2 separate regions of the Homo sapiens genome follow, and region 2 is linked to region 1. Evidence: fine-mapped expression QTL. Tissue or cell type: gastroesophageal junction. Region 1 holds a variant in brackets; the other region holds the start of a gene. All regions are shown on one strand. Distances are from middle to middle.

Region 1 (2,680 bases):
CTGGGCCTGCAAAACCCCCAAATTGGGCCTCTTCTTACTGACTAATCCTGGGGGTGAGGTAGTAAGGGTGGAGGTTAAGGCACCCAGGTCTCCTACTACCTCTCAAGAATAGTGGCCAGATGTTCTGCCAGGGCTCCAAGGCATTCCTTCTGCCTCCCACCCACCTGTTTCCTCTGATGCTCGACACCCCCTCCTCTCCCCACATGCGCACCAGATGCATTCGGCTCCAGGAAGATAGGATGAGGCAAGCCTTGAACCTTGTCAAACCTTGGGGATGCTTGCGGCAAAGCCTGTAGCTTTTGGGGAGGCTGTTTCTGCAACAGGCGTGTAGGGTGGCCCTATGGCTGATGCAGAACTCCCCATAGGTAAGGTGAGCTCAGCCGGATCACATGCCATGACCACACGTGAGCATGGAAGACAAACCCAGAGAGGTCTGGAGGCAGGGCCCCTCCCGGAGAGGCAAAGCCACTTATGCTGCCTCCTGACAGCCTGTGTGGCTTTAGGCTCTCGCTTCCCTCCTGCTCTGCCCCTCCTACTCACCCAGCAGACTTGCTTAGTCTGGGCTTGGGTAGCCGAGACAGGTTGTTTTCAGGCCTCAAAGGATTTGGGCCACAGCCCAGCCTTTCTCAGTGTTTCTCACCTTCTGTCCTTGTCTCCTTATGGGACGGAGCAGGCATCTGGAAGGTGGCAGAGGGGTGATCCTGCCTGGAAATCACTGAGGGTCCTTTTATAGAAAGAAACAGGCTGAGAGAAAGAAATGACTTGGCCACAGTCACTACCCAAGAGGCTAGTTTCCTGTTTGTGCCTCCAGCTATCCTGGGGCAGCTTCCTTCACCCCAGCTGAAAGCAGGCTTTTGTTACGCGCTCACTCTCAGCAAGGCTTTGTTCTGTATCCTCTCGGCAATCCTATGAGGTAAATAATATTATGTCCATTTTTGAGGAGGAAACAGAGAGGCCTAGGGAGGTGACTTAACCTGTCCAAGACCACACAGGTTACAAGTGGCAGAGTCCGGGTTTGAACATAGCCTGGCTTCAGAGCTCATTTTCTTTACCATCAGGCTACACATTCTGAAACTTATTTGGCTTCCAGGCATCACAGAAACAGAGTGAGGGTGCTAAATCCTTGAATGACTCAGCCCCTGTGGAGTTGGACCTGAAGACGCCTCCTGGCCTTGGCTTTTCTGACCAAAGATAGCCACACTGGGCAGGGCACGGTGGCTCATGCCTATAATCCCAGCACTTTGGGAGGCCAAGGTGGGTGGATCACCTGAGGTCAGGAATTTGAAACCAGCCTGACCAACATGGTGAAACCCCGTCTCTACTAAAAAAATACAAAATTAGCCAGGTGTGGTGGCCCATGCCTGTAATCCTAGCTACTCGGGAGGCTGAGGCAAGACAATCACTTGAACCCGGGAGGCAGAGGTTGTAGTGAGCTGAGATTGCGCCGTTGCACTCC[A/G]GCCTGGGCAACAAGTGTGAAACTCCATCTCAAAAAAAGAAGATAGCCACACAGCACCTACTGTGGGCCCAGCCACTCCAGGTGCCAGAATGGCCCACGCTTCTCTGAGGGTGCCGTAGACCAGGTGCTGAGACGCAGACAGTCCAGTCTCTCTTCCCTTCCTCTCCCCATCCCACTCCTATTCCAGTAACTAGGCAGGCCCTGCCCACCCTTGCCCCAGGAGAAGCTCCACTCTTGTGGACAGTGGAAGGGCCTCGGCCAGCTTGCCTGAGTCCTGGGCTTGGAAGGACGGTTGCCCCCATCTGCCTTGGTTCCCTGCACCTGCCTTTTCTTCCCCGCATCCTCCCTCTGACTGCCCGCTTTTCTCTGCTTTCACCTTCCCCTAGTGTTCCTCTTCTTTCGTGTTGTGTCAGAAGCCATGATTTCCAGTCTTCTCATCTGGAAGATGAAGGAAAAGATAGACCCGACCCCACAGGGTTCTGAGGCTCAAACTGAAAGCCTGGTGGTGGGGCACCTGTGACAGGTGAGACTCCTCATCTTGCCCCCTTCTTTCTTCATCATGAAGAAGAGACACTGGAGGATGTGGAGCAGTTGGGGCCTGTGGTCCAGGTGGGATGGAGCAGTCAGGGCCTCGTGGAGGGAGCAGGTGGGAGGAATACTCTGGCTGGGATGGACCTCACGGGGTGTGGCCCAGCTTTGCAGCTGACTTGCATGAAGTCCTGGCGAGCTGGGGAGCCCTTGCACCCTCAGCTTCCTCATCTGAAAGATGGGGCAATGGTAATGCCTGTCTGTGGAGTGGTGAGGAACAAATGAGACTGGGCCACAAAGTACCCAGTGCTGTGCCCAGCACATAGTGCCCAAAGAGGGCTGCTATCTCATCTCTTATTCCTGAGATTTAGCTTCCTTGTTTTGTTTTTGAGCTCTTTGGGACCTTCGTGGACTTTGAATTTTTACTATTGTTCATTGTGTCTAAAATCTTCCTCAGAAGCCGAGGGCCTCTAACCTGATCATGAATTTTGGAGTTTCGTTTTTTGTTTTTTTTTTCTTTCCTGTTTCCTGTATAGGAAAAAGGGACCTGTACCTTTAAGACCCCAGCAGGCCCAAGTAGGACACTGGCCCTTTAAAAGCACATTACAGAGAGTTGGAACATAGCCTTTGTTGAACTAGCCATGATTAGTCCCAGCGGACAGGGCTGGAGTGGCATGTCTGGGATCAGGGCGGGGC
Region 2 (2,680 bases), 860 kb before region 1:
CTGTGTGGTGCGTGTGTGTACTCCTGTGAGACTGGGCAGGATGATGTCTACGGCATTGTGCCAGGGAGTGTGTGAAGCTAAGTATGTGCGGGGCCCTGGGGCGAGCCAGGCACTGCAGGGGTCTCGGCTCCCCAGATGGTGGCGTGGCCACGACCTTCTCCACCCCCACTCCCATCTCCTTTTTCTCCAGCGCAGAGCGCACAGGCTCCCGGGCAGGGGATGCGGTCTGAATCCCTGTCCTCTCCCTGCCACCTGGCTCGCCCGGCGCTGCGAGGTCCCCGCCCGCCCGGCCAGGGGCCAGGCCGGGGCCGCTGCAGGTTCACAAACTGACACTTCCTCTCCCGCTGCGCCTCTAGGAGCCGGCCGGGTCGCCGCACCCGCCTCCACCCTGGCCGGGCGGGGGCCCCCGGGTGGCGCCCCCCCAGCCCCCGCCTCCGTCCTCCCGGAGCGGGCCCCCGCGGGCTGTGATTGGCTGATTCAAACCCATTTGCAAAGAAATGCCTGTTTGCGGGTTCCCGTCTGCGTCCAGTTCAAATCCGCGGCACCGGGAGCGCGGGGCCGGGCGGGGGCAGGAAGCGAGGATGATTCATGCGCCGGGGCCTCTCCCAGGGCGGCCGTTGGCTTTTTAAAAAGGATGTTCAGGAGGGGGGAAAAAGCTTGCAGAAGCACCCCCTTCGGGTTCAGCGCTCCTCTCCTCAGTCGCTCGGACGCCAAGCCTCCCCCATCCCAACCCTGCCGCAGCCTGACTTCGGACGTGAGCGAAATGCCAAACGCCCGTCTGTCCTTCCCCCACCCCGATAGGAAAATTAAAGATCGGGGGCGAGGAAGAACGACCTGTCACCCATGCCCCCCGGGGCTCGGGAACCCGGGTGGGGCCCCTCTGCCCCGCAGGTAACCTGCACCCCCGGTCCCCACCCCCGAGAGCCCCGCTCCGCAGGAGTCTCACCCCCCGGAGGCGTTCGGGCCGCCAAAGTTCAGGGAGATTTCGAAAAGAGAGGGATGAGGGCCGGGAGGGGAGAGCGTGGCGGGGAGTCCGCCCAACAGCGCAGAACTCACCGCGAGGCTGCGTGTCCGCCGGTCCCACTTGGAGTCTGGCCACCAGGCGCATCGGTGGCGGAGGCGGCTGCGCTCGGCCCGCGGCTGCCCGGCCGAGTGTCCGCCCGTGGGGCCGGGGTCGGGGTCTCGGCGGGGGCGGGGCGGGGCGGGGGCGCCGCGGGGAGGAGGGGGAGGCGGCGGAGGGAGGGGCCGGGGCGCTCAGGAAGGGGCCCCCCGGGCGCGGGGCGCCATCTTTTTCGCGTTTTCCCGCGAATTATTGACGTCCCGCTTATGTAATTAGCGGGGGCCGCGCCGGCCTCGCCATTGGAGCCCGCGGCCGCCGGGCTCCGCAGCGCCGCCAGCCCCCGCCCGCCCCCGCCCGCCCCGCGGGCGCGCATCCTCCGCGGCCACTAGCCAGGACCCGGGCCCCCCGCCGAGGAGCGGCCACACCGCGGCGCACACGGAGACGCCAGGCAGCGCTCATGGCGCACACGACCGCTCGCACACTTGTTGAGGAAACACAGCTCTGCGCGCAGGCACCGGCGGACCCTGGCACAGACACACAGCAGGGCGGCGCGGACCCTTGGCGCAGACACAGACCCAGGACGCCCAAACAGGCCACACAACACCTTGCACTAACAGCACAGGCGTTCGGCACAGAGACACAGCACAAGTATAATGTAGATACACAACACACAGTGCACAACGCATGTTGTTCCGACACAGGTCAGAACACACCACAGCATGTACAGGACACAAACACACCACAAAGAGAAGTACTGTACACACCAGCCATAGGCATAGATACACAAGGGGGAACACACTGTACACAACAGAGACACACAACAGAACATGCATGTAAGGTAGACGGACATAACACATAAAGTCACAACACAGACGGGCAAGAGACACAAGTTTTCCTGAAAAAGTGGCATTCAGATAGGTTGTGGAAATAGGTTAGTGGGTGTGCCAGGTGGAGGGAATTCAGTGGGCTAACAATGCAATTTTTAAAATACGGGTTAAGGATATCAAAAGGCAATTCACAAAAGAGGAAACCTACATGGCCGAAATAGCCCCAAACAACAAATTGCGTAGAGACACAGTGCACAGAAATACATGGTACAATCGCAAATATATACCACACGCACAACATGTCATGTAAATAAAGGGCACACAATGAAAGACAACATGCACAGAGTCATAGGAATGGCAGATGGAGTCAGTGGGCAGAGCTCCAATCATAGGGACCCTGCCCTGTGGGGGAAAGGCAGACATGGCCCCACCCAGACTCACTCTTGGGGGAAGGGAGGAAGAACACTTACCAATAACCCCACCCCCATCCTTGCCCTCAGTCCACAGCGCCCACCTCTGTGGCTACCATCCCACTCTGCAGACACCCCCACCAGACAGGGATATGTGCTTTCATGGGTGTGGCCAGTGGACAGCACCTTCCCCCAGAGCCTTCCCTGTTCACTGTCAGTTGCTCACTCTGGGCCCTCTGCCTCCTGGCCTTGGAGCATGATCTGTGCAGCCCCCCACCTCACCTTCTCAGCAGAGATCCAGGAGTCCTTTCACCTCCTTCCTCACTTCCTTCTGCCCCTTGATCCCCCTGCTCTCACCTGCCTCACTGCCCCATTCTGGATCC

Evidence for each region. PIP is the estimated chance that this variant, and not a neighbour inherited with it, causes the effect.
Region 2: PHF19 starts here. The variant in region 1 is fine-mapped to the expression of PHF19 in gastroesophageal junction (GTEx, PIP 0.99).

Annotation. Positions count from the first base shown.
Region 1 is chr9:121,740,943-121,743,622 of GRCh38, forward strand. The region is part of intron 3 of DAB2IP (DAB2 interacting protein); the gene reads left to right. Among named protein-coding and RNA genes, the nearest start is that of DAB2IP, 91 kb to the left of the region's middle. RefSeq lists an enhancer at 1,720-2,419. The variant A/G (reference allele first, on the strand shown) is at 1,457.
Region 2 is chr9:120,876,035-120,878,714 of GRCh38, forward strand. PHF19 (PHD finger protein 19) reads right to left here and starts at 1,154. Exons shown (of 15, transcript NM_015651.3): 1 at 1,057-1,154. RefSeq lists enhancers at 1-582, 1,594-1,643, 1,904-1,953 and silencers at 174-623, 904-953, 1,194-1,473.